Homo sapiens: one gene and its partners. The protein of the gene in region 1 binds, or shares a complex with, the protein of each later gene. Each region holds a gene or a part of one and is shown on either strand. Other genes may lie near its edges.

Region 1 (7,974 bases):
ATTTAGACAGGAAAAAACCAAGGTACTCAGGAGGGTTTCATAGCTAATAAGTAACTGAAACACAATTTGAATTCAGGAAGCCTTGCTCTAAGTCCTGTGCACTTCATCACAATTGTATGTGGTCTCTCCCAGTAGGCAGTGGAAGCACCAAGCTCTGCAAATTATTTTTCTGAATTGTAACTGCAAGCCAGAGATGTGGTAGGAGCATGGAATATAAATATAAAAACACACAGCTGTTGCTTTCTAGGAGTATATCAGTTATTTCTTGGGCATAACAAATCACAAAACGGTGACTTAAAACAATAGCCATTTACTTGCTCACAATTCTACAATCTGGTCTGGACTCACACATTTACAGTCAGTTGGTGGATCAACTAGTACTGAGGATCCAAAATAGCCTCACTAATGTTCAACATTTCAGCTAGGGTCTGGAATGGCTAAGGGTTGGCTAGGCCTCTCTCCTCATGGTCTTTCGTCCTCAAAAAGACAAGCTCGAGTTTCCTTACATGGGCAAAAGAGCAAAAAGGAAGTAACAAGGTCTCTTAAATCCTGGGCTTGGAAGTGCCCAACATCACTTCCTCTGCATTCTCCTGGTCCAAGCAAGTCAGAAGGCCAACCCAGATTCAATGTGGCAGATGATTACACAATGGCTTCAATTCAGGGACCTGTGATTCACTGAGGGCCTTTTAATAACAATCTACCACAAGAAGCTAACAGTTTTAGTGAGGAGACAATTGTCATAGCACATTGGGACGTAATAAAGATGGGAAAAAGTGCAATAGGTCTGCAGGCAAAGAAACACCCGAATTTGATGGGGCAGGGGATCAAGGACAGCATCATGAAGGCAGCATTAACACAGGCCCTGAGACTTGGAGAGCAGATCATGTTTGGAGGTTAACTTGGTGGGTGGTCACAGGTGAATAAGGAAGGGAAGGAAGGGCAGTCCAGGAGGACAGAATAGCAGGTGCAAAGACATTGATACATGGCAAAAGAAAGCATGTTGTATTTGGGGATAACAAATAGTTCAGAATGATTAGAGTAAAGGGCTCTTGAGGAAGAGTGTGGAAGGCTGAAGAACGAGGCTGAACCATATCAGGAAGTGTCATGAGTGCCTTGCTAAGAAGATTTTAAATGATACTCTTAGTAATAACTCTTAGTAATAGAAGATCATTGAGAAATTTTGATCAGAACAACCACATCATGTGTTTTTTTTTTTTTTTTTTTTTTTTTTTTTGAGACAGAATCTCACTCTGTCACCCAGGCTGGAGTGCAGTGGTGCGGTCTCGGCTCACTGCTATCTCCGCCTCCCTGGTTGACACCATTCTCCTGCCTCAGCCTCCTGAGTAGCTGGGACTACAGGTGCCCTCTACCATACCTGGCTAATTTTTTGTATTTTTAGTAGAGATGGGGTTTCACCGTGTTAGCCAGGATGGTCTCAATCTCCTGACCTCGTGATCTGCCCGCCTCGGCCTCCCAAAGTGCTGGGATTACAGGTGTGAGGCACTGCGCCTGGCCATATTTTTTTTTCCTTTTTTTTGAGACAGAGTTTCACTCTTCTTGCCCAGGGTGGAGTGCAATGGCGTGATCTTGGCTCACCGCAACCTCTGCCTCCCGGGTTCAAGCAATTCTCCTGCCTCAGCCTCCTGAGTAGCTGGCATTATAGGCATGTGCCACCACGCCCAGCTAATTTTGTATTTTTAGTAGAGACGGGGTTTCTCCATGTTGGTCAGGCTGGTCTCGAACTCCTGACCTCAGGTGATCTGCCTGTCTTGGCCTCCCAAAGTGCTAGGATTACAGGCGTGAGCCACCGTGTCCGGTCATGTTTTTTTGTATTTAAAAATCACTTTCAGGCTGGGCACAGTGACTCATGCCTGTAATTTCAGTGTTTTGGGAAGCCGAGGTTAAGAGTTCGAGACCAGCCTGGCTAACATGGCAAACCCCCGCCCCCCGCCATGTACTAAAAATACAAAAATTAGCCGGGTGTGGTGAAATGCCCCTGTAATCCCAGCTACTCAGGAGGCTGAGGCACAAGAATCGCTTGAACCCGGGAGGTGGAGGCTGCAGTGAGCCAAGATTGCACCACTGCACTCCAGCGACAGAGTGAAACTGTGTCTTGAAATAAATTAATAAAATAAAATAAAAAATAAAAATCACCTTAGGAGTCCATGAAAGGAAGATCAGATGGAAATAAGAAAGACAAATGAGAAGGCTATTGCAAAATACCAAGTTTAAGAAGATGAGACTTGAACAATGGCATAGAAAGCAGAGAAGAGGAAAAGGGTTCCAGAAATATTTGTGAGGTAGAATGAACAGGATTTGACAATTGAAGGAAGAATACAGAAAGAATCCCAGGTTTCCGATTTTGGCAACTGGGTGGGGATACAGGTGGCAGAGTTTTAGGGGAAAAGTGATCATTTACGTTTCAGACATGTTGGTTTTGAAACGCCTGTGTGGCAATCAATACAGATATGAAGTAGAGAGTTGGTTCTACAAATATGAAGCTCAAGAGAGAGGACTGGACTAGAGATACAAACACAGAATTCATCAGCAAGCAGGTGGTAGTAAGAAACCATAAGATGTCCCACAGAAAGCATGTAGAATGAAAAGGACAGAAACTAGAGATGACTATAGGGGAAGAGCTAGATTTAGTGGGTAGAAGAGGAAGAGAAGTCCACGTAAAACACTAAAAAAGAACTGGAAAGAGGAGGAAAACCAGTATCATTGGTGCCCCAGTAGCCACAGGATAATATAATTTTGTTTCTTTCTTTTTCTTTTCTTTTTCTTTTTTTTTTTTTGAGGCAGAGTTTTTACTCTGTTACCCAGGCTGGAGTGCAATGGTGCGATCTCGGCTCACTGCAACCTCTGCCTCTGGGGTTCAAGCGATTCTCCTGCCTTAGTCTCCCAAGTAGCTGGGATTACAGGAGTCCTGTCACCACGCCCAGCTAATTTTGTATTTTTAGTAGAGACAAGGTTTCACCATGTTGGCCAGGCTGGTCTCGAACTCTTGACCTCAGGTGATTCTCCCACCTCAGCGTCCCATAGTGCTAGGATTACCGGCGTGCGCCACTGCACCCGGCCTATAACTATCATAATTCAGAAAAGTGCCCATGGAATTTGATGACTGATAACTGGTAAACATACCAAGCGCAGTTTTAGAGGGGCTTATGATGGCAATATCCCAATTGCTACGAATTGAAGAAGCCTGTGAGAGAATGCTTGTAAAGTGTAATGACAGGTGAAGAGGAGTTGCTGGAATTTAAAGAGTTACTTTATAGAAAGCAAAGTTATCTACTGAGAGGGAAGCGTGTGGGCTTAAAAAGTGCATGTGGAGAGGGAAAGGCTTGTAATAGCTGTGCTGAGAGAGAAATCTTTGAATGCCGCTTCCTGTCAAGTTCCTGCTCAGTATTCTTCTCAGTTTCATGATAAACTTCTTGAAAAATTCCTTTGCGTTTACTTTCTCTCTTCCCCACTTCACTCCTTAAAACCACTTTAATCGTAGTTTGGCATTTGTCTCTATATATCAATGACTTTTAGAAAAAATCACCAGTGATTTTTGTGTTTCAAACCTAATGTACATTGTGTCACTTGATATTATTTGTTCAAAAGAATAAATGTTCTGTTCTGGATATTCTTTTTTTTTTTAAATGGAGTCTCACTCACTCTGTTGCCTAGGCTGGAGTGCAGTGGTATGATCTCAGCTCACTGCAACCTCCACCTCCCGGGTTCAAGGGATTCTCCTGCCTCAGCCTTCCGAACAGCTGGGGTTACAGGTGCGTGCCGCCATGCCTGGCTAATTTTTGTATTTTTAGTAGAGACGGGGTTTCACCTTCCTGGCCAGGCTGGTCTCAAACACTTGACCTTAAGTGATCGCCTGCCTTGGCCTCCCAAAGTGCTGGGATTACAGGCATAAGCCACTGCGCCCTGCCAGTTCTGGATATTCTTAACATACTCTATGCTTTTGTCTAAATTATTTGATTCTGATTTCCAACAGTGAAATGGGAATGATGGAGAGTTAATACAATGAGATTGTAAGGCACATGGAGCGTCTCTGACATAAATAGTTATAATCATATCATTTTCCCAATAGAATGGTTTGCAGGGATTAAATGAGATAATGGCTATAAAATTTTTCTTAATACATAGCTGTAAATAGCAATGATTATTTACATTTTAGTTTGAAAATCAGCAAACTAAAATTTAACAGCTGAAGAAAGAGTTCAGCTACTTTGGGTGCTCAGGTAGAAAAATACTTGGTGATTATGAAACGATATGTCTGGAATCTGTTTCAAACTAATCGGGGGCGGGGGGTGGGGAGGGGAGGGTGTTGGGGTGGTAAGGGTGGGTTGGGGCTGCCGTGGTGGGAAATTGGCCACGTTATTGATGCTGAGTGTTTGCTATTCTAATTTTGTATCCGTTTGAAAATTTTATAATTAAAAATTATGATTTGTTTCGCTCTACGCAACTATGTTGACAGAATATATTTGGTAAACTGAAATGTCACGGAAACTTAGTTTGTAACCGGTCAGTGGCTTTTTGAGGTGTAGACACTTCATACCTTACTTCACTCCCCACTGTAAGGAAGATTTAACTTGAAGCGGAGATAATGATTTGAATTTACGGCTTTTATAATGTCATAAATGGGCGTCATTTTAATAACTACTCTCAGAATATCTTTTTCTATTCCACTTTACTTTTTCCTCTCCACTTAACCAACTCATCATTAGAAACTACAAGTCCCAGGATGCACTACACGATGAACGTCGGATCGAGGACCTCGTGTCTCTGAAGTGGTTGCCCTCGCCTTATTTGAATGGGAATAATCCCAATGAAAATTGATGTTTGTGACCCAGAGCAGATTCTGGAGCCTTTTGTACGCCTGGGACGGCCCAGCGTGGAGGGGACAGTGTGGTGCCTTTTTGTTCAGGCTTCGCTCAGGTCAGCCTCACCCTTTCCCGGGGCCTCCATGCGGCAGAAGGGCTCTGTTAGTGCGCCTCTAAGATGGCGACGCCTTTGGCGGTAAATTCGGGTAAGTGTGGCCAGACAGAAAGACGATTGAGCTGAGCGATAACCAGGTCTTCATGGAGAGACGAGACCGTGAGGTTTCTCGGAGTCTAGGACCCCACTTATGTGCGGTGCCTGCTTTTCCCTAATTCTGGGCCTAGAGTCCCACCCCTCCCCAGTTTGAATGGCGCGCGTCGGTGCTGCGGCTCCAGCCCTCGAGTTGGGGTTTGAGATTCCAGGCAGTGAGGCTTGGGCCGCTGGACCCAGGTGTGTAATCTCTCACAGCCCAGGGCTGAGTCTGGTCCCCCTCACCCCCAAGTTTCACTGTGCGTCTGTGGTCCCGATTTCGCTGGAATACGCATCAGGTCTTCCACAGTGAAGCCAGAGGACCCGAGATATTTTCCAGCCATGAGCAGAGGCTGAAAGTAGGCGTCGGAGTTCCTTATAGGGTGGGAGATCTTGCAGGCAGCGAATACTCCCTATTATGAAGTCGGCCATCTGAAAGGTGGTCAGGAAGAGGGTGGCGGGGCTTCAGCAGACGTCTTCTAACCCTGCGGATGTGGTTAGGCCCTGGATGTTCTTGTACCTTTGGAGCTGTAGATTTTCGGGGTGGAATTGAATCTAGAAGGTAGTAAAGGAACTCTGGAAGATTTGGGGTGGATCCTCTTTCGGTGATTCTCAATTCGGGCCGTACCGCCCTCCAGTGGTGTTTGAATGAGTGAGTGCATTTTGATTGTCATATTTCCTGGGGTACACTGCTGTCGCATAGTAGGCGGGGCAAGGATGCAGAAAGTCCTTCATGGTCAGAGCAGTCCGGAAAAATAATTTGGTGCCTAGAATGTTAATGCCTCGATTGAGATGCTCTGAAGTTCGCGGGCAAGATTAAGAGTATATCTGTGTGGTAAATGCTTGTGAGAATCTCACTTAAAAGGACTCTTTTTTAAAGTATTGGTTCTATTTTCCACAGGACTGATATTCTTGAAAAGTTGTCTAAATCTGTTTTGTAAATCAAATCATTTCAGAAAAGCTATGATAAATTATAATGAAGGCTATGTTTACTGAACACATACTATATCCCAGCATTGCACTTATTATCGTGCTTATCTCATTCAGTTCCCGTTTATACACCTTTGGAGTAGTTACTGTTACATACTCCGTTTTACAGATTTGGAAATAGAGGCTTCAAATAGTTACGTAATGTCCCCAGAGTTAAACATCTAATGATCTAAGTCAGTCTTAGGTGCTTAAACTACTTAGTGCTACTGCTTAAGCACAACCTAATTCATTTTATGATATTAGACGTATATATTAGAAGGTTAGTAATGAAGTTACATGCTTAATATTGCGGTCCTTCCTTCCCAATTAGATATGCTTAACGTGTGGTTGTATATAATACATTTCTCTATTTTATTTTATTTTTTAATTTTTCTTTTTGAGATGGAGTCTTGCTCTGTCTCCCAGGCGGGAGTGCAGTGATGCGATCCGCGATCCTGGCTCGCTGCAACCTCTGCCTCCCAGGTTGAAGCAATTCTCCTGCCTCAGCCTCCTGAGTAGCTGGGATTACAGGCATGTGCCACCACGCTGGGCTAATTTTTGTATTTTTAGTAGAGGTGGGGTTTCTCCATGTTGGCTAGGCTGATCTCGAACTGCTGTCCTCAAGCGATCTTTCTGCCTCGGCCTCCCAAAGTGGTAGGTTTACAGGTGTGAGCCAGTACGCAAGGTATACACATTTATTTTCCTTTTTTTTTTTTTTCTTTTTTTGAGATGGAGTCTCATCCTGTCCACCCAGGCTGGAGTGCAGTGGCGTGATCTCGGCTCACTGCAGCCTCCACCTCCTGGGTTGGAGCAACTCTCCTGCCTCAGCCTCTGAAGTAACTGGGATTACAGGCGCCCGCCACCATGCTTGGCTAGCCTGGCTAATTTTTTTTTGAGATGGAGTCTCACTCTGTTGCCCGGGCTGGAGTGCAGTGGCACGATCTTGGCTCACTGCAACGTCCGCCTCCTGGGTTCAAGCGATTCCCCTGCCTCAGCCTCCCGAGGGGCTGGGATTACAGGCGCCCGCCACTACACCCAGCTAATTTTTTGTATTTGTAGTAGAGAAGGGGTTTCACCATATTGGCCAGGCTGGTCTCGAGCTCCTGACCCCGTGATTCACTCCCTTCAGCCTCCCAAAGTGCTGGGATTACAGGTGTGAGCCACTGCGCCTGGCCAATTTTTTTTGTATTTTTAGTAGAGACGGGGTTTCACCATGTTGGCCAGACTGGTCTCAAACTCCTGACCTCAGGTGATCCGCCTACCTCGGCATCCCAAAGTGCTGGGATTACAGGCGTGAGCCACTGTGCCTGGCCTATATACATTCCTTTAGTACATACTCGCCCTAAGCTATTATAATTATTAAACAAATCATTGGAGGGAAAAGGAGTTGCCAACAGCAGCAAAGAGTGTACATTGTATAATAAAGCCTTGTGTCAGGAGTGTTTAATTGGCAACATAGGAAACATTTTTAAAAGCCAAGAGTCAGGAGCTGGTTTTTTAAAAAACTAAACGTCTTAGGGAAGGAACTCTTTTTCCATCAAGGAATGAATGTTGGGTTGAGTGGGTAAAGGAAATGTGTCATATACATGCAATATGCATAATACATATACATGCATATACATAACATAACGTATACATGCATATATATAGTATCCTTATGCAGCCTTAAAAAGGAAGGAAATCCTGTCACATAAAACAACGTGGATGAAACTTGAGGACATACTAAGTGAAATAAGCCAGTCACAAGACACAAATACTACATGATTCCACTTATATGAGGTATCTGAAGTAGTCATACTCATAGAAACAGAAAGTAGAATGGTGGTTGCCAGGGGCTGGGAAAGGGGAAAGTGGGGAGTTGTTTAGGGGGCATAGAGTTTCTGTTTTGCAAGATGAAAAAAGCTGTGAAGATCTGTTGCACAATGTGAATACACTGAA
Region 2 (7,023 bases), on another chromosome or scaffold:
TATATATATATATATATATGCGCCTATACCGATGTTCCTCAACTTATGGTGGGTTTGTTTTCCAATAAACCCACTATCAGTTGAAAATATCATAGGTTGAAAATACATATAATACATCTAACCTAATGAACATCACGGCTTAGCCTAGCCTACTTAACCATGCTCAGGACACTTAACGTTAACCTATAAAGTTGGGCAAAATCATCTAACAGAAAGCCTACTTTATAATACACTGTTGAATATCTTGTGTAATTTATTGAATACTGTACTGCAACTGAAAAACTGAACGGTTGTATGAGTATTTTATTTATTTATTATTTATTTATTTATTTATTTTTGAGATGGAGTCTCGCTCTGTTGCCCAGGCTGGAGTGCAGTGGCATGATCTCGGCTCACTGCAACCTCTGCCTCCCAGGTTCAAGCGATTCTCCTGCCTCAGCCTCCTGAGTAGCTGGGATTACAGGTACGTGCCACTGCATCTGGCTAATTTCTGTATTTTTAGTAGAGACGGGGCTTTGCCATGTTGGCCAAACTGGTTTCGAACTCCTGACCTCAGGTGATCTGTCTGCCTCGGCCTCCCAAAGTGCTGGGATTATAGGCATGAGTCACTGTGCCCGGCCATCAGTATTTTAAAGTATGGTTTCTCATAAATGTTCATCACTTTCAAACCACTGTAAAGTTGAAAAATCGTAAGTCAAACCATTGTAAATTGGGGACCATTTGTATATGCCTACCTCAATTCCGAAGTATTGATGTCCTTTTCCCAATACAGCATCCACATATTCTGACACCAAATCCACAGCTTCTTCTAAAAGGTCATAGTTTAAGTATAAACGAAGCAATTCAGCAGCATCAACCTTCTGTGAAAAGTCAGTGATTAAGAATATGTACCTATTTCCCTCCTACTTGAGTACTGACCAAAGAATGTTGAGTGGCTGATTCCCTAACATTTGTATTTCTCAATATAATTAAACCAGTGGCTTGGTTTACTCATCTGTATCTTAGGATAAGAGCTGATAACAAATCTGGGGAGTTAGGAAAAAAAAAAAGTTAAATCCCTAAGAGCCGTTACCTCTAGGCAGTTTGGGAGGCCCTTATCTGTTAAATAGCCTTCTTCCCCTGTTTTATGACCTAAGACATATTTTAACTTCTCTCCACTTCAGTTTCCACAGTTGTAAAGTCAACAAACTTTTCCTGAACACTAAAGTGACAATATATTCACATAATAAGAAATATATGAATGACAAATGCAAAAGAAGTTCAAAGAATCACCAGCTTTAAATCTGAAGTCTCTATTTGGAAGAGCTCTATTAATTAAGCATGCTTTCTATATTCCCATTTGATCACAATCTTACCTTTACCATCTTAGCTGGCTTCCCTACTTTCCTATTTATTTATTTTTTTTGAGACAGAGTCTTGCTCTGTCGCCCAGGCTTGGGGGCAGTGGTGCAACCTCAGATCACTGTAACCTCTGCCTCCAGAGTAGCTGAGATTACAGGCACGCACCATCACATCCAGATAATTTTTGTATTTTTAGTGGAGATGGGGTTTCACCATGTTGGCCAGGCTGGTCTCGAATTCCTGACCTCAGGTGATCTGCCTGCCTTGGCCTCCCAAAGCGCTGGGTTTACAGGCGTGAGTCACCGTGCCCGGCCTCCTTTCTACCTTAAAAAAAAAACAAAAACAAAAACAAAAAAAACAAAACAAAACAAAACAAAAAAAACCAAAAAAAACTTTCCTGATTTTAAGCTTTAGATTTTCTCTTTCCTTATCCTACTAACGGTGGTTCAGATGCAGAAGTTCTCAAACTTTAGCATGCATCAAAATCAAATTAGGAGCTTCTTAAAATGTAGATTTCTGGCTCCTAGCCTGAGATAATCTGATTCTGTAAGTCTAGGATGAGGAATCTGTATTTTGAAGAAGACTGCCATCTGAATAATTCTGATGCAGACAGTCTAAGAACCCGTTTTTGATTTTTAATAGGTGAAACAGTGGGAGTGGAGAAGGAACCAATCGGAAACTGGTTGTGCTCAATTAGTTGTAAACAACACGGCACTCAGACCAGCCATAGTGTTATATTATTTGAAAAGTACTCCACCGACTCCTGTGACTTTTTTGAGGTATGAAGAGTAAATCCTGTGTCATGCATATGCTCATTGTTCTAAATATAAACTCATTGTTCAGTGAATATAATAGGAGTCATTAACCTAATTACTAACCTATGAAACTTCAAATCTAAATACACAGTAGTACTGTGGAAATGAATTTGAATTGTTCTTATGGTTTTAGCTATGATGAAAAGCTTCCCAAAGTACGTAAGTCAATATGTTCCCATAAGTTATCACCCCATCTTTTTCTTTTTCTTTATATATTTTTAAATTTAAATAGAGATGGGGTCTCCCTGTGTTGCCCAAGCTGGTCTCAAACTCCTGGGCTCAAGCCATCCTCCCCTGTTGGCCTACCAATGTGCGGGCATGACAGGTATGAGCCACTGCAATCAGTCCATATTTTTAATCATCTCATGAAGTTATCCAGAATGATAAAGAGTGGGTTCTTACTCTGTACAAGTTATAATCCGTTTACCTTGTAACTGTTTATAAGCCAATTAGGCAGAGGCACTCCATGAGACAAGAGCTTGTTGATTACACAGTGGTGATACAAGTTATTCTGGACTTTGTACCTCTCCAGGTAAGTGGATAATAGTCGCCATGCTTCATCTGTAGCACTTGAAAAAAACAAAAATGACTAATGAGTTTCAGATTCTTAATAGCTATTTAGAGTACCATTCAAAGCATGTATTTACAAGGAAAACTTTTTTTTCAGACAGGGTCTTGCTCTGTCACCCAGGCTAGAGTGGAGTGGTGTGATCTCAGCTCACTGCAGCCTCAGCCCCAGATTCTCCCATTTCAGCTTCCTAAATAGCTGGGAATACAGGCATGCACCACTATGCCCAGCTAATTTTGTTTATGTTTTGTAGAGACAAGGACTTGCTATGTTGTCCACGCTGGTATTAAACTCCAGAGCTAAAGTGATCCTCTGACCTTGTCCTCCCTAAGTGTTGGGATTACAGGCAGGAGTCACCATGCCCAGCCTTACAAGGAAAACTTTAGAAATTAACAACTGAATCAATAATATAGCTAAATGGGAACAAATATTATTTGGGCTAATGTGACTTATGGGGATAGCACTAGAAACTAGATGTCTTGGGTTCGTATATTCCTCTCCCACTAACGTATTTAGTATTTAGTAAACAAACATATTTAGTAAATGAACGTTATTTGTTTGGCTATTAATGCATAATTCATTTAACTCCTTTGTTTCTGCATTTCTAAAACAAGAAACTGGTTCAGAACACTGGTTCTCAAACCTGATCAAGCATTAGAATCATGCAGAAGTTCTAACTTAGAAGACTAGGGTGATTTCTCATAATCTGTATTTTAATAAGTTATTCTGATGTGCTAATTTAGGGGTTGAAAACTAATGTCAGAGAACTTCCAAATTCTAAAGTGCTATCACTCTAAAGTGCTAAGCTGTATAATACCAAGTGCAAATGCAGTTCAGAAAGGGAAGTTTACTGAGGGTTAGGAATGTTAGAGAAGGTTTCTGAAGAAGCTGAAGTATATTTACGTGGACACAAAGTGGGTGCACTGGGGAAGTATACGAACCAGAGGAGATCTGAAGAAGGTATAGTGGATGATGGGGGCTGATGGGTGACAGACTGCTGAACAGCAGCTGGAGACAAGATATAAGAGGACACTGTGATGAAACCATGCAGTGACTGCTCAGTGGAAGAAATGGGGGAAAAAAGGAGGATAACACTCCGAAACAAGTAAATACAGATTTTTGCCTGTAAGAGTACCCTTTCCTGATATGAAACAGTAAGTCTTTGAGGAGGGGGATATGGAGAAGGAGACATTTCATAGGCAAAGACATCCTAGTTTGGACAATAAATGACATGATGTCACCTTAATTATAAACTTTCCAGCCCCTATAAAAACTTAGCCAAAAAGAAAGAAAAAAGTGAAATGATCTATGTAGGACAATTTAGTCAGAGAAAGACAGTTACAGCTTTTAGAAAGGCAAAACTACCCAGGGTTGAACACCAGGGTTGTACCTAGACTCCTTAGTAGTGATGACAGATGAGAGCTGATTGGCTGCTAGCCAGGCCCAGGCTTCTGCTTGTGCTGCCTCTCCTCCAAATTGCAATTTGATGCATCTGGAATGAAAATGGTTCCACACTTGAAAACTGAACGCTGAAACGTACCACTTTAATTTGATACTAAAACTAGAGAGATAGATGACAACTTCATCTCTAGTCTTTTGCTGAATTCACTACTGGAATATTGGCTCATCTCTTCCTCAAGTTACACAACTGGATACCTACAAGAACATGAGTAAGCATTAAGAGACAATTTACTTCCAAGATAAAATTAATGATGAAAAATTCTTTTTTCTTTTCTTTTTTTTTGAGATGGAGTCTTGCTCTGTCACCCAGGCTGCAGTGCAGTGGTGCAATCTCAGCTCACTGCAACCTCTGCCTCCCAGGTTCAAGTGATTCTCCTGTCTCAGCCTCCTGAGTAGCTGGGACTACAGGCCCATGCCACCATGCCTGGCTAATTTTTTGTATATTTAGTAGAGACGGGGTTTCACTGTGTTAGCCAGGATGGTCTTGATCTCCTGACCTCATGATCCGCCCGCCTAGGTCTCCCAAAGTCCTGGGATAACAGGTATGAGCCACCGCACCTGGCCTCTTTTTTTTTTTAAATTAAGATGGAGTCTCGCTCTGTTGCCCAGGCTGGAGTGCAGTGGCGCAATCTCAACTCATTGTAACCTCCGTCTCCCAGGCTCAAGCGATTCTCCTGCCTTAGCCACCCAAGTAGCTGGGATTACAGGCACACGCCACCTCTCCTGGCTAACTTTTGTATTTTTAGTAGAGATGGGGTTTCGTCATGTTGGCCGGGCAGGTCTTGAACTCCTGACCTCAAGTGATCTGCCCACCTTGGCCTCCCAACGTGATGGCATTACAGGCGTAAGCCACTGCACCTGGCTGAAAAATTCTGAAAGTTCAAAATTATTTCTAATTCACAAACTTTTTTTTTTTTTTTTTTTGAAACAGAGTCTTGCTTTGTTGCCCAGGCTCGAGTGCAGAGGCGCGATCTCAGCTCACTGCAACCTCTGCCTCCCAAGTTCAAGAGATTCTTGTGCCTAAGCCTCCTGAGAGGCTGAAATTACTGTTGTGTGCCACACCCTCATTTTTGTATTTTTAGTAGAGACAGGGTTTCACCATGTTGGCCAGGCTGGTCCCAAGCGATCCACCCGCCACAGCCTCCCAAAGTATTAGTAGGATTACAGATGTGAGCCACTGTGCCTGGCCAAGAAATTCTTCTTCTTTTTTTTGAGACAGAGTCTCGCTCTGTCGCCCAGGCTGGAGTGCAGTGGCGCGATCTCGGCTCATTGCAAGCTCTGCCTCCCAGGTTCACGCCATTCTCCTGCCTCAGCCTCCCGAGTAGCTGGGACTACAGGCGCCCGCCACCACGCCCGACTAATTTTTTTTGTATTATTTTTAGTAGAGACGGGGTTTCACCTTGTTAGCCAGGATGGTCTTGATCTCCTGGCCTCGTGATCCGCCCGCCTCGGCCTCCCAAAGTGCTGGGATTACAGGCGTGAGCCACTGCGCTCAGCCTGAAATTCTTTTTAAGAATGCTTGGATGGATTAAACAAAACACTTCTTCAAATCATAAATGATATATGGGCTACTTGGCTTATGACGACTGTTTCACACTGAGCAAGAGGATAATATATTTGCATTAGAAAAGACTATAAAAAAATAATTTTATACATACTTGAAGGCAAGCCCTTCAAAGACTGGCGTTAAGGGAAGCTTAAAAGTCTGACAGAGTGATATGGCAGTGTCAAAGAGGCCCGCCTGAACCAAGAGAGTGACCATTTCCTCTGCTGATGAACTTCCTGTGAAAATGGAAAAAGATTATTTCGTGTAGCCAAGGTATACACAAATGAAACCAAAGATTTTGTTTTGTTGATGAGTATCTCTGAGTAATAACCCAGGCTTTATACCCATCTACCATGCTACATACACTGCCTGGACCTAAAATGTGCTCGTGGTGCTGACAAGTCAGAGGCTTTAAACTCTTGAATTCCTACCAGCAACTGCAACCGCTGATGGATCATGCTGAGCCAAAGTGAGGCGGATGCGAGCCAAGGAACACTCTTTCTCCAGATCTTCCAGTTCCAGGATTTCAATTTGTCGATTTGCTATACATCAAAGAAAAATATTTTGAACTCCCAAAATACAAAGAAGTATCCATCAGATTAACGCAACCTGTCAATTTCCACTGAACATTAAGTAACATTCAATCTAATTTCCAAATGCATGAAGGAAGGAGAAAATAGGGCACTAAATAAATGCTAACTTAAACAAATTATGCAATATCCCATGTCAAATCAAAGTATTTTAACCGACTGCAGTTGAGGAGGTGCTTACAAGGTACTACATGTAATTTCATTTAACTCTTTAAACTTTTTTTTTTTTTTTTAAGGAAACAAATCTCAATCTGTCACCCAGGCTGGAGTGCAGTGGCATGATCTCGGCTCACTGCAACCTCCGCCTCTTGGGTTCATGTGATTCTCCTGCCTCAGCCTTCCGAGTAGCTGGGATTACAGGCGTGCACCACCATGCCCAGCTAATTTTTGTATTTTTAGTAGACACGGGGTTTTACCATGTTGGCCAGGCTGTTCTTAAACTCCTGACCTCAGGTGATCCAGCCACCTCAGCCTCCCAACGTGCTGGGATTACAGGCATCAGCCACTGTGCCCAGCCTAAAAAATTTTTTTTCTACAGGGTCTTGCTATGTTGCCCAGGCTGGTCTTGAACTCCTGAGCTCAAATGACCCTCCTGCCTTGGCCTCCCAAAATGCTGGGATTACAAGGCATGAGCCACTGCACCTGGCCTCATTTAACTATTATAATTGTGAAATACTGTCTGTCATCTCTATCAATAAGAAA
Region 3 (7,023 bases), on another chromosome or scaffold:
GTGGGCCAGGCATGATGACTCATGCCAGTAATGCCAGTGCTTTGGGAGGCCGATGTGGGAGGATCACCTGAGGCCAGGAGTTTAAGACCAGTCTGGCCAGCCATAGTGAGACCCCATGTCTACAAAAAAGTAAAAAAAAAAATGAGCTAGATGTGGTGGCATGCGCCTGTGTTCCTGGCTACTTGAGAGGCTAAGGTGGGAGGATTGCTTAAGCCCAGGAGTTTGAGGATGCATTAAGCTATGATTGCACCACTGTACTCCGGCCTTGCTGACAACAAGACACTCACTCTCTGTTTTGAAAAAGAATGATTTCTGTGGCTGCATAAGTATTTCATCATGTCACTGTTATGTAATTTATGTAACCATATACCCTTATTTAATATTTTACCATATAGGTTTTCAATATTATAACTGAAGGATATTTTCAATTATATTAATAGTGTGAATTTCTAAAAATGAAATAATTGCTCAGTTGAAAATTACTTTTTTTGATTAGTTTTGTAAATTGTTGTGTAATCAGATATTTCATGCAGTGGATGGGCTTGCCCTAGTTGCCATATCCTCTCCAGTTTTTTAGTTTGATTGTTTTGATTATCAGTCAGTTAATTGGACGATAATTATAGTTTATATTTTTTTGCCTTTTTATTGGTGGGGGAAGTTATATAGTATGGGAATAGTGTTTTTATCTCCTTGTAATGGCAAATTATCCCTGTAAAGTCATTTGTTTATTGAATTAAAGTGACTTTTTTCATGAACTTTTAGAAATTAATCCAAAAGATGGTTTTGAAAGATTTTTAAAAATGCATTTGAGAGTCCAGTGTTTTATTTGGCATAATGTTATTAAATTTAAAAAAATTACAGCTCATCATGTCACTACAGTGAACAGTACAAATTGTAAGAAGACACCACCTGAAGATTGTGAGGGTCCTTTTAGACCTGCAGAAATCCTGAAAGAAGGAAGTGTTCTAGATATTCTGAAAAGCCCTGGTAAGATAATTAAAAGATAAGCCTTTTGATTACAAACTCATGATCTCAATTTAATGTCATTTTGTATTATACTTTAGGCTTTTAAAAATTTCTGACTAGTTTGGTAGGAGATTTACTTTTGAATAGAGATGTAGTTAGGTGTAATTCTTTTGCTGGAAATATCTTACAAGCCAAAGGACTCTATACTAAAATGAAATTTCTAATAGGCAAGTGTAGGAGGAGGAAATGGATTCTCCATTAATAGAGGTAGGTCAGTGAGGAATAAGAGTAAGTAAACCTGATGATACACATAGACATGTCTTTCTCTTATGAGAGCACTGAACTGCCTTCTTGAATTATTCCCCAGTTTGGTAAATATGGAACAAGGCCAAGTGGAAAGCATCTGCTGAATTGTAACATATACATAGGGAGCAGTACTCACTTGAATTGAAGCAAGATTTGAAAGCTAGTAGGTAATAATTAGAAAGGGGATAAATAGTTCTCAGATAAGAATAATTTTTTGTTTGAAAACAGGATGTTCATAATTCCATTTATGATACATAGTATAAGAATGTAAAACTTGCCAGGCGCGGTGGCTCACCCTTGTAATCCCAGCACTTTGGGAGGCCAAGACGGGCAGATCACTTGAGGCCAGGAGTTGAAGACCAGCCTGGCCAACATGGCGAAACCCCATCTCTATTAAAAAGAGAAAAAATTAGCTGGGCGTCCTGGCATGCACCTGTAGTTCCAGCTACTCGGGAGGCTGAGGCAGGAGAATTGCTTGAACCTGGGAGGTGGAGGTTGCAGTGAACCGAGATCGAACCACTGCACTCCAGCCTGGGCGACAGAGCAAGACTCTGTCTTTAAAAAAAAAAGAAAGGAAAAGAAAAAAAGAATAAAAGAATGTAAAACTGTGAGATAATCTAATAGCTCAGAAAGAATTTAAACGTACCCACCAGATGTGTCCATGTGTAATAAGATAGGTTTTCTTAAAAAATAAGGTTGGCTTTTACAACAGGATTTAGGAGGATTCAATTTTTCTGGTCCAGCTCTCTCATTTTATAGATAAGTATACTGCCTACAGGAGTCCAGTAGCTTGGACAGTTCCATGCAGTTATGGTAGAACTCCAGAGTGCTTGTGCTGGAATTAACCAAGTAGTAGGCAAGCCTCAAATGTGTATAGTCTGTCTTGTGTATCTGGGGTTACACTTTGCATTCATGATGCCAACCTCCCCCTGCTCCCTTTTTACTTCTTAAATAGGAAATGTTTGGGGAGAATCTTCATTTGACTGAAATTAGGAAAATCTGAAAAAGTAGAAGAAAAAGAAATCTGTAATGCCTTGAGATGGTTACTGTTAATATCTTGCCAATCTTAGTGATTTAAATTAATCATAAGCAAAATAACACGTTGCCCACTGGGAATAACTCAAGCATGTGGTATTTTGTCCTTAAGCTAAAAATAGCTCTAGGCTGGATTATTTTGTGGAACTAGAAAACCTCTAATAACCTTCTACATCTTCTCTCCTTTTAATTTCTTTTTCTTTGGCGGGTAAGGCTGGAGAAACAGATCACAGATGGTGGTGTTGTGTGTAAGACAAAAGTTAACTGGTCCTAAGTAAACAATTACAAAAGTCATTCTCATGAGTAAAATACAGCTTGAGTGAATGAACTCAATGACAGCAGTTTTGGTAACAGAAGGACTTGCTCAGCTGATTTTACTGAAGGTAGAGAATACCACAGCAGTAGGTTATGACTGGACAAAATTCAAAGATGACATTGAAGCCATTTGGTGTAGCCAATGGAACACTTAAAAGAAGAAATGGATGAAGGAGAAAGAGGACTGCGAGTATTGTGTGTTTGTAGAGAGACAGAATATAGCAAAATGTGGATGGCAATAATACATATCAGTAAATTAGTACCATTGAAAGCATCAAACTAGAAATTCCTTGAAGGAGAAGGTGATATCCTGTAAACAAAACATCTTTTGTAGAATTTTAAATGGTTTAAGTGTAACTTATTAGGTAATTGATAAATATGATTACTTAAGTGAAAAACAATTCTTAAGTAGTTCATCTTGGATTGTAGTAAGTGTGCAGTGAGGTAAACGTCTTCTCAGTAATAATAATCAAATTAATGCTTTGATTTATAAAGCTTCTCTAACGTTGCACTCTCTCCTTCGTTCATTGTAGGTTTCGCATCGCCGAAGATAGATTCTGTTGCTGCTCAGCCCACCGCAACAAGCCCAGTAGTTTATACAAGACCAGCAATAAGTAGCTTTTCTTCTAGTGGAATTGGGTTTGGGGAGAGTTTAAAAGCTGGGTCATCATGGCAGTGTGATACATGTCTACTCCAGAACAAAGTTACAGACAACAAATGCATAGCCTGTCAAGCAGCAAAATTGTCACCCAGAGATACTGCTAAACAGACTGGAATTGAAACACCAAATAAAAGTGGCAAAACAACTCTTTCTGCATCAGGGACAGGCTTTGGAGACAAATTTAAACCAGTGATAGGCACTTGGGATTGTGATACCTGTTTAGTGCAAAATAAACCTGAAGCAATAAAATGTGTAGCCTGTGAAACACCGAAACCTGGAACTTGTGTGAAGCGAGCCCTTACATTGACAGTGGTTTCGGAAAGTGCTGAGACTATGACTGCTTCATCTTCCAGCTGCACTGTAACCACTGGTACCTTAGGATTTGGAGATAAATTCAAAAGGCCCATTGGATCTTGGGAGTGTTCAGTATGCTGTGTTTCTAATAATGCAGAAGACAATAAGTGTGTGTCCTGTATGTCTGAGAAACCAGGTATGTTTTTGGCTTTATGGAGTAATTTTGCTTATTACTTCTGTTGAACAGTTTAATTTATTCTAAGAATCCTTGTTTTAGATGTTTCAGGATGAGCATTTCTCATACATATTAATTTTTCTAAACTATCTTGAGGTAAAAATGTCTTGTTTGCAGCTAGATCTTTATGTTCAGTTAGGATAGGTTATGTGTTAACTAGTCTGGTATATATGACGACCTCCTCTTTTTGTACAGTTTTATCAGAAATTTCTTGTTCAAAGTTGACTAATACAGATTCTGAAAGATCTTAGAATGGGGTAATATTTCTCAAACCTTTGTACAGAGTAAAATATTACTTCTCCAAATAGAAATCAGGATAGCTAGTGGTCATTTACAGGGAAGGTTTCTTTAGGGGGTAGACTATAGTCGTTAATGAAAAGGCTGTAGCTGTTGCAATGATTGTAAATTACCAAATCACTAATTCTAATCTAGGCAGCCAGAAACATGGAGTTAGTTTTGAGTTTTTTCTGTTTCTCTGTTCAAAGTTGGAAGAATTAGTGAAGATTCATATTGAATCTTTAACTCATCCAGAAGTGGATGATGGTTTTGTAATATTATATAATTATATGGTACAGATGTATGATAACATGGATATCCTGGGAATTACACTGTTTTCAATGCATTATTCATGAATATGCAGTTTTGTGTCTGTAATGTACAGCTCTGAGTTACTAACCTAGACCTTTTGCCTGAGCCCTCATGCCATATTTCTGATTCCTACTGGATATTTCCCTATGAGTAAGATTTTAGAATCTTCATTCCTTTTTTTTTTTTTTTTTGAGACAGAGTCTCACTGTGTCACCCAGGCTGGAGTGCAGTGGCACAATCTTGGCTCACTGAGACCTCCATCTCCCAGATGCATGCAATTCTTGTGCCTCAGCCTCTCAAGTAGCTGGAATTACAGGTGCATGCCACCACACCCAACTAATTTTTTGTATTTTTAGTAGAGACAGGGTTTCGCCATGTTGGCCAGGCTGGTCTTGGACTCCTGACATCAAGTGATCTATCCGCCTTGGCCTTCCAAAGTGCTGGGATTACAGGCGTGAGCCACCATGCCCGGCCTAGAATCTTCATTATGAAATATTTTTGTCTTCCCATCTGGTTCCCCTGCTCACCTACAAAAAGAAAGCCCTTGATGTATGCAGGAAAGCAAAATTAATTTTAAGTTGAAGGGGAATAACAAAACTTTGAGTCAGGAAGTAATTTGTTACACATGAACAAAGGAAGCTCACATATGTATTAAAGAACTTGGATGTCCTCCTTTCAATGATGAACCATCATTTTCAGCAGAGGAGTGATACAGTCAAGTTTGTATTTTTGATGAGTCACTGGCTTTTTAGATAATGGATTTGAAAACAAAAAAATTTGGAGACCGGAAGATAGATTAGGAAGTGGTATCAATCATATAGGCAATAGGCCAGACACTGTGGCTCACGCCTGTAATCCCAGCACTGGGAGAAGCCAAGGCGGGTATATTGCTTGAACCCAGTTTAAGACCAGCCCGAGCAGCATGGTGAAGCACTGTCTCTACAAAAAACACAAAAATTAGCCTGGCTTGGTGGCACCCGCCTATAGTCCCAGCTACTTAGGAGGCCAAAGTGGGAGGATTGCTTGAGCTCGGGAGGTAGAGGTTGCAGTTACCTGAGATCATGCTACTGCGCTTCAGCCTGGGTGACAGAGTGAGACCCTGTCTCAAATAATGATAGGCCGGGTGCGGTGGCTTACACCTGTAATCCCAGCACTTTGGGAGGCCGAGGCGAGTGGATCACCAGGTCAGGAGATTGAGACCATCCTGGCTAACACAGTGAACCCCTGTCTCTACTAACAATACAAAAAATTAGCCGGGTGTGGTGGCGGGTGCCTGTAGTCCCAGCTACTCGGGAGGCTGAGGCAGGAGAATGGTGTGAATCTGGGAGGTGGAGCTTGCAGTGAGCCGAGATCATGCCACTGCACTCCAGCCTGGGCGACAGAGCGAGACTCCGTCTCAAAAAAAAAAAAAAAAAAAAAAAGATAAGCCAAGCTGTGCAACCTGTGGGCTGCATGTGGCTTAGGATGGCTATGAATGAGGCTCAACACAGATTTGTGAATTTTCTAAAACATTATGAGATTCTTTTGCGATTTATTTTTTTTTTTTATTTTTTAATTTGTTTTAAAGCTCATCAGCTGTTGCTAGTGTTAGTATATTTTACTTGTGGTCCAAGACAATTCTTTTTGTCCAGTGTGGACTAGGGAAGCCAAAAGATTGGACCACCCCCGCCTCCCCTGCTGATACAGGCAATAGATAATGTACTGATCGAACTGAATAAGGAATGGAGGACATAAAATTAAAGACGTTGATTTCAAGCTGCTGAAGTCAACATTCAGATGTATGTAATGTGACCAGGCATGGTGGCTCACGTCTGTAATCCCAGCACTTCGTGAGGCTGAGGCAGGCAGATCACCTGAGGTCAGGAGTTTGAGACCAGCCTGGCCAACATGGCAAAGCCCTGTCTCTACTAAAAATACAAAAATTAGCTGGGCGTGGTCGTGGATGCCCGTAATCCCAGCTACTTGGGAGGCAGAGGCAGGAGAATAGCTTGAACCTGGGAGGTGGAGGTTGCTGTGAGCTGAGATTGTGCCACTCTACTCCACCCTGGGCAACAGAGTGAGACTCTGTCTCAAAAAAAAAAAAATGTATGTAAGGCCTTTGGATACACCCTTTGGGTGGAGATACGGATTTGGGGTCATTAATCCATAGTTTTGATATTTGAAGTCATGAGAGTAGAGTTGAGTGTGTTCACTCAAGATGGCCTGAAATGAAAGTCCGCTAACTTACAGGGAGTGGCAGGAATAAAGCTTTTGAACAGTTAATCTTTTAAAAAGGTGCAACCAGAAAGGAAAAACAAAAACTACATGGCACTGGTTGCTTCAGAGGAAGATGGATTTCAAAGGAACAGGATCAGAGGTCTCAATAAAAAAGCTGTTACTCAAGCAAGAGATGGGTTAGTGGTGGGAGTAATGGGGGGGGTTCATGAACCAGAATAGCAGTAGAAGAGTCAGAAATTGATTGAAATAGATTTGAGAAAAATGTAGAGGAGGAGGAGTATCCAGCCAAGCTAACCAAGTAAGACAGTGGAGTCACCAACTAAGAGACTACAGTGACAAGCTCAGAAGTGTAGATTGCAGGTGTAGATTAGGAAACTGTTTTTTGGGGATTTAAAAACCACTGGAG
Region 4 (7,107 bases), on another chromosome or scaffold:
TCTCAAACTCCTGAGCTCAGGCAATCCACCCGCCTCGGCCTCCCAAAGTGCTAGGATTACAGGCGTGAACCACCACACCACGCCTTTGTTTTAAGACAGGGCCTCACGCAGTTTCCCAGGCTGGAAAGCAGTGGTGCAATCACAGCACTGCAGTCTCAATCTTCCAGGCTCTGATGTTTCTTTGATTTCAGCCTCCTAAGTAGCTGGAGTACAGGTGCATGCCACCATACCTGCCTAATTTTTGTATTTTTCGTAGAGACAGGGTTTCCCCATGTTGCCCAGGCTAGTCTTGAACTTCTGGGCTCAGGAAATCCACCTGCCTTGACCTTTGAAGTGCTGGGATTACAGTAGTCAGTCACCATGCTCAGCCAATACTTATCCTTAAATCTCTGAGTTTCTTAGTTCCCTAACCTTTCAACAAATTACATAACTGCATAGTCTCATTATTGGAAATTAAACATTAGTACCATCATTCTTTACTTTCCAGGTTAACTACCACCACATAAATCATATTACAAGAAAATAATATAATTTTTTCAAAGCCGTAAATTTAGTTCCTTAAAAATTCTACTTGCTCTTAGTTATCTAGGACCTAGTAGACATAAAGTCAGGTACTGGCTGGGCACAGTGGCTCATACCTGTAATCCCAGCACTTTGGGAGGCCGAGGTGGGGGATGGCTTGAGCCCAGGAATTCGATACCAGCCTGGGCAACATAGCGAAACCCTGTCTCTACCCAAAATATACAAAAAAATATTAGCTGGGTATGGTGGTGCACACCTGTGGTCTCAGCTACTTGGGAGGCTGAGGTGGGAAGATTGCTTGAGCCCAGGAGGTAGAGGCTACTGTGAACCGAGATTGCGCCACTGCACTCTAGCCTGGGTGATGGAGTGAGACCCTATCTCATAAATAAATAAACAAATAAATGTCAGGGACCAAAGTATCACATAACATATAAACAGCAGGAACTATCTTATCTGGGCCCCATATTTCAGGAGCCTCTCTATTGACTACTGTTAGGTATAACTCCTCCATATTTGTCTATTCATTCAAGTAAACACACTTACTGAGGGCCTACTATGTGGCAAGCAACTGGACAACAAAGATAAGATGAAAATATTTTACCAGCCTAATTAAAAAAACAGCTAAAATAAAAATGATATGTGCTATAAATAGAAATATCAAATAAGTGTTATGGAAGCTTGCAGAGAAGAGAATGCCAAGAAAAGCTTCCCAGAAGAGGGTGATGCCTGAACTGAGAAAATGTCACGGAAAACATACCCTGTTCACGCTTTACTATTTAGACTACGGTTCTCTTCTGCACTACTAGTTCTGAGTTTATGCTTTGTCATCTATACAAGAACAAAGTAACAATCTTACTGATGTGTACAGAACCAAGTGTCAACTAATTCAATTTCATCAAATCTGAAGAGTCAAAAAGAATAATTTTACCCAAGTATTTCCCAGTACCTTTATCCTGTCCAACCTCTAGTTTTGGTTTTTAAATACCCTAACTTCCTCCACCAGGTAAACATACTGTAACCCAGTTAACTCGAGTTTCTTTTCGAATTTGTAAGACCGTCACAGGGAATGATCACTGCTCTCTTTTTGCTCTTTATTCCAGTTAGCTTCTTCCTCCAAAACGGAGTTTTATTTCCTCACCTTATTCTACTATAATACTTCACTTTGAATTCTGTACCTGAAAGGAGCCATGAGTTCCGAGGTACAACTACTACAAACGGACTCCTACCTGGCTTTCTAAGTCTTATCAATATTTCCTGCTTTCTATTCCAGTACTGTTATAAATCCCTAACTGACTCCGAGTCCTCATCAGCTGACACAAGTCAAAAAATTCAGATTTAGAAAGGGAAACAATGGCTTGTAGTTTTACCGATTTGTTTCCGATACATAACAACGCTGACGTTCTTTAACCATCTTCTAAGTTTAGTTCTCAAGCTCTAGGTTAGGGTACCACTAACGAAGCTTCCACCTTACCCGTGAACAGAGCTGGTAGCAACTAAACGGAAAACGCTGTGAAGACTACATCTACGTTTAGCTACCTAATGTCCATGCCGCACCGACCTCCTAAAGGGAATTCTTAATAATGGGAGACTGAAATATCCAGGGAGGGTGAGGTAGTAGAAAACTGTTTAGACTGTCAAAAATCTGGCATTGGCTAATCCTGCCTGTTACTCCGGGCCTCGGTTTCCCCATCTACAAAACTGATGTAAGGTAGGGGGATTGACTTAAACAATTTCTAAAGTCCTTATGGCTATAGTAATCCAGAAACTCAATCTGTCTCCTCATCTGGCTTTACACTGAACACGTGGGAAAATAGAAAAGAACCTTTTGCTCCACCGAACCGACTCCTATTCTCAGATATTATCTTAAAAATCTCCCAAACTTCGGACTCACCCTAATCCTCGGGGTGCCCACTTCCCTTATGGAGAAGCCAAGGCAAATAAAGCCCAGTCCCACATGACGGTCAAGGAAGTGCGGGGCAGACCGTATTCAGGGTTTCAAGGCGCTGACCCCGGAAAGGCCAGCCCACCGTGGGGTCCTTACACCACTGAATGAATGAGTACAACCAGACAGACACCCACTCGCGTGGGCAGCAACTGGAGACCTCCAGGCCTAGACCCCACTGATGTCCATTCTCTCCCAGGGCCTCCAAAGCCGGGCCTCCCGGGCTCCGGGCCCCCGGGTCCTCAGCACCGCCCCTCTCTCAGGCCAGAAGGTGCGCGCAGCGGCGCTAGACTTCGAAGCGGAGAGGCCCTGAGACGCCCCGCGCGTCCGCCCGCCCGGAAGGGGGGAGAAACCTGCCGGTCTCGGCCGCTGCAGCTCGGGCTCCCGACTTACCGCGGTTCGGTGGGGAAGGGGAAGTGTCAGGAGTCCCCTGCTGCCACCCGCCGCTCACAGAGCAGCGCGCGGCCCCCACGAAACCGTCGCCGCCGCCGCTACCACCCCTGCCACCGACCGCCGCTTCGGGCGCAGCGCGCAGAGGGCCCGACTGCGTCACACGCCGCCCGGCGTCAGAGGCTCGTTGCGGACGCTCCGCCCTCGCCGTCCGCGAATTGGTGGACGCGGCCGCCACTCTGGGTCGACCCTGTTATTCATTGGGCAACGCGTCTTTTGAAACCGAACTGAAGGGGGAAGGGGCGAGAGGGAAGAGGAGGGGCAGAAGGAGTTCGGGGAGGCACAGGGTAGGAGCGGTGAGAGGGCCGTGGAGTCCCGCCCCTCGCCGCCGCGGTTGGCGGGAGCGTGTCGTGACGTCACACAGGGCCTCTCGAAGTGGGCTTGTGAATGGCTAGATTGGGAAGCACCGGCGGGGTGTCGGGAAGGGTGGTGACGCAACATAGAGACTCCGCCCCCTTCCTTGGAGCGCCGCGACTCGGGCTGAGGGAGCTCGGGCCAATCAGAGGGACGGCCCCAGAATGGCATGGTAACTATTCGACCCTTTCCTTGCCCCGGTCCGCCGGCGCTGCTGGGAAGGCTTCCTAGTCTCTCTGCCCGCACTTCCCGCCCAGACCACGTGCGGAGCCTGAGGGCCCTCTTGGAAGGTCTGTCTGTCCAAAGAGTTTGCCCGAGGCTTCTTCAGGGCCCTAAATCCTGACCCTATTCTCTCCTGACCCATGCTCGCCCCAGCACTTTCTTTCCCTCCCTGAATTTCTAGGATGGACATTAGGAGCATTAGAGATGCCCTAAGGGACTGGCCCACCAAAGGGCCTGGTACAAATGAGGATTGTTGGAACGTCTTTCCCAGCTGCACGTGGAGAACCCCTAATTCTTTTTTTTTCTTTTTCTTTTGAGATGAAGTCTCGCGTTGTCGCCTAGGGTGGAGTGCATTGGCGCAATCTCGGCTCACTGCAACCTCTGCCTCCCGGGTTCAAGCGATTCTCCCGCCTTAGCCTCCCAAGTAGCTGGGATTACAGGCGTCCGCCACCAGGCCCAGCTAATTTTTGTATTTATAGTAGAGACGGGGATTTCACTGTGTTGGTCAGGCTGGTCTCGAACTCCTGATCTCAAGTGATCCACCCGCCTCGGCCTCCCAAAGTGCTGGGATTACAGACGTGAGCCACCTCGCCCATGAACTAATTTTTTTTTTTTTTTTTGAGATGGAGTCTTGCTCTGTCTCCTCTTTCTCCCAGGCTGGAGTGCAGTGGCACGATCTCGGCTCACTGCAATCTCCGCCTCCCAGGTACAAGAGAGTCTCCTGTCGTAGCCTCCCGAGTAGCTGGGATTACAGGCACTCGCCGCCGCGCCCAGCTGATTTTGTATTTTTAGTAGAGATGGGGTTTCACCATGTTGGCCAGGCTGGTCTCGAACTCCGGAACTCAGGTGATCCGCCCGCCTCGGCCTCCCACAGTGCTGGCCTTACAGGCGTGAGCCACCGCGCCCAGCCGAACCCCTACTTATTCTTAAAGGACGGGTATTTCAAATGTTCCCATCTTCTCAGTGATACATTTGCCAAGCTTTCACAGCGAGTTGAGCTAATGCTTGGGCAGGCCTCTGTTAAAGCCTTGTCACTTTGTATCCTATTATTTACCCTCGGTTTTCTGTGCCTTGGGCTCTTCTTGGAAGTCCTTCTGGGGCCTAGCCCATTAGCAGAAAACTGATATTACAAGAGTGAAAGGTGGGCATTTTCTAGAAACTAGACCTGTTTAGTGACTGAGAGTCTCATAGCAGGAACTGTGCGCAGAAAGCAAAGCGTATACTGGCCGGGCTGGTGGCTCATGCCTGTAATCCCAGCACTTTGGGATGCTGAGGCGGGCAGATTATTTGAGGCCAGGAGTTCGAGACCAGCCTGGCCAACATGATGAAACCCTGTCTCTACTAAGAATACAAAAATTGGTCAAGCATGGTGGTGGGCACCTATAATCCCAGCTGCTTCTCGGTTTGCTGAGGCACGAGAATGGCTTGAACCAGGGAGGCGGAGATTACAGTGAGTGGAGATCCTGCCACTGCGCTCCAGAGTGATCTCAAAAAAAATTTTTAAAAAACCTCCACCACTACTCCTTTGTGAGACATGAATGCAAAATTGAACTGGGCTTTTACCTAAAATGTAAATGAGTTTAAAGCCATCTGGGTTTTCGGTGATGGCAAGGGATTAGAGATAATTGATTTATTTGTTTGTTTAAAAAATGGGAGACTGGGAGTGGTGGCTCACGCCTGTAATCCCAGCACTGGGGAGTTCAAGGTAGGAGGATCACTTGAACCCAGGAGTTCGAGACCAGCTCGGGCAACATAGTGAGTCCCCACCTATACAAAAAATTAACCAAGGCCAGGTGTGGTGGCAAGCGCCTGTGGTCCCAGCTACTAGGGAGGCTGAAGTAGGAGGATCGTTTGAGCCCAAGAGGTTAAAGCTACAGTGAGCTGTGATTACAGTCATGCCACTCCCGCCTGGGCAACAGACGGAGCCTCCGACTGGGGGAAAAAAAAGGTGGTGGGTTGTAAAGATGGAATAAGATAGTGGATGGAAGAAACACGGTACATTGTAGGTGCTCAGTAGATACTTGAAGGAAGAAGAAAATCAATATATGGTTGGCCAAATAGTAAAGTTACTTTAAACAACTGACTGCAGCCATCTTCCCCCAACTCCTCCATCCAAAACACCCCTACTTTACAACCACACTCCCTTGCCTTTGCTGGACTTTAGAAAGTCATTAACTCTCCCTAGATAGTTACAGTAGCTTCATAACTGCCCTCTGGAACATTTGATTTCTTGCCCTTTAATCTCCAAGCCCAATTATTTTTAAGGCTCTCTTCTACTGACTTATTTTGGTGTCCCTAAGGCAGGGCACATAGTAGGTACACATTAGATATTTGATGCACGAATGAGTGAATTATTTTCTTCAGTGGGGGATTAGTAGAGGTGTTGGACTTTGAGTCAGAGAACCCTGGTTTAAATTTGGATGCAGATTTAATTTAATTCAGTTTAAATTTATTTATTAATTTAATTTAATTCAGTTTAATTTAATTAAGAAATTTGGGCCAGGCGGGATGGCTCACGCCTGTAATCCCAGCACTTTGGGAGGCCGAGGTGGGCGGATCACGAGGTCAGGAGATCGAGACCAGCCTGGCTAACAGAAGGAAACCCCATCTCTACTGAAAATACAAAAAAATTAGCCGGGCGTGGTGGCACATACCTGTAGTCCCAGCTACTTGGGAGGCTGAGGCAGGAGAATTGCTTGAACCTGGGAGGCGGAGGTTGCAGTGAGCTGAGATCGAGCCACTGCACTCGATCCTGGGCCACAGAGTGAGACTCCGTCTCAAAAAAAAAAAAAAAAAAAAGAAATTTAGGCAAATTTCCTGCCGGGAATGGTGGCTCACGCCTATAATCCCAGCACTTTTGGAGGCTGAAGCAGGTGGATCACCTGAGGTCAGGAGTTCGAAACCCGCCTGGCCAACATGGTGAAACCCTGTCTCTACTAAATATACAAAAAATTAGCCGGGTGTGGTGGCTCATGCCTGTAATCCCAGCTACTTGGGAGGCTGAGGCAGGAGAATTGCTTGAACCGGGGAGGCAGAGGTTGCAGTGAGCTGAGATGGCACCATTGCACTCCAGCGTGGGCAACAAGAGTGAAAGTCTGTCTTCAAAAAAAAAAGAAAAGAAAGGAAAGAAAAAGAAATTTGGGCAAATTTCCTAATCCCTCTGAACCTCAATTTTCTTTTGTATAAAATGGGGATAACAACCACATTTGCCTTACAGGGTCGTAGTGAGCATTAAAAGAGAGAATACATTTAAAGCACTTAGCATAGTACCTGGCACAGATAAGGCCTCAATAAATGGTATTGTTTGCATTATTTAAAAATGTATCCCAGCCGGGCATGGTGGCTCAAGCCTGTAATCCCAGCACTTTGGGAGGCCGAGGCGGGCGGATCACAAGGTCAGGAGATCGAGACCATCCTGGCTAACATGGTGAAACCCCGTCTGTACTAAAAATACAAAAAATTAGCCGGGCGCGGTGGCAGGCGCCTGTAGTCCCAGCTATTCGGGAGGCTGAGGCAGGAGAATGGTGTGAACCCAGGAGGCGGAGCTTGCAGTGAGCAGAGATCGCGCCACTGCACTCCAGCCTGGGTGACAGAGCAAGACTCCATCTCAAAAAAAA

The links.
Region 2: NUP205 (region 1) and NUP160 share a complex: the UniProt entries of both Homo sapiens proteins name them as parts of the nuclear pore complex.
Region 3: NUP205 (region 1) and NUP153 share a complex: the UniProt entries of both Homo sapiens proteins name them as parts of the nuclear pore complex.
Region 4: NUP205 (region 1) and NUP98 share a complex: the UniProt entries of both Homo sapiens proteins name them as parts of the nuclear pore complex.

Annotation. Positions count from the first base shown.
Region 1 is NC_000007.14:135,552,947-135,560,920, forward strand, and holds the start of NUP205 (nuclear pore complex protein Nup205), read left to right. Parts: upstream 1-4,970; 5' UTR 4,971-4,998; coding exon 4,999-5,026; intron 5,027-7,974. UniProt on the Homo sapiens protein: Plays a role in the nuclear pore complex (NPC) assembly and/or maintenance. May anchor NUP62 and other nucleoporins, but not NUP153 and TPR, to the NPC.
Region 2 is NC_000011.10:47,782,339-47,789,361, forward strand, and holds part of NUP160 (nuclear pore complex protein Nup160), read right to left. Parts: intron 6,274-7,023; coding exon 6,163-6,273; intron 5,968-6,162; coding exon 5,844-5,967; intron 4,217-5,843; coding exon 4,115-4,216; intron 2,726-4,114; coding exon 2,584-2,725; intron 861-2,583; coding exon 735-860; intron 1-734. UniProt on the Homo sapiens protein: Functions as a component of the nuclear pore complex (NPC). Involved in poly(A)+ RNA transport.
Region 3 is NC_000006.12:17,633,903-17,640,925, reverse strand, and holds part of NUP153 (nuclear pore complex protein Nup153), read left to right. Parts: intron 1-861; coding exon 862-987; intron 988-3,155; coding exon 3,156-3,773; intron 3,774-7,023. UniProt on the Homo sapiens protein: Component of the nuclear pore complex (NPC), a complex required for the trafficking across the nuclear envelope. Functions as a scaffolding element in the nuclear phase of the NPC essential for normal nucleocytoplasmic transport of proteins and mRNAs.
Region 4 is NC_000011.10:3,794,543-3,801,649, forward strand, and holds the start of NUP98 (nuclear pore complex protein Nup98-Nup96 isoform 1 precursor), read right to left. Parts: upstream 3,013-7,107; 5' UTR 2,858-3,012; intron 1-2,857. Other genes in the region: acyltransferase PGAP2, read left to right, coding at 3,438-3,440. UniProt on the Homo sapiens protein: Plays a role in the nuclear pore complex (NPC) assembly and/or maintenance. NUP98 and NUP96 are involved in the bidirectional transport across the NPC. May anchor NUP153 and TPR to the NPC.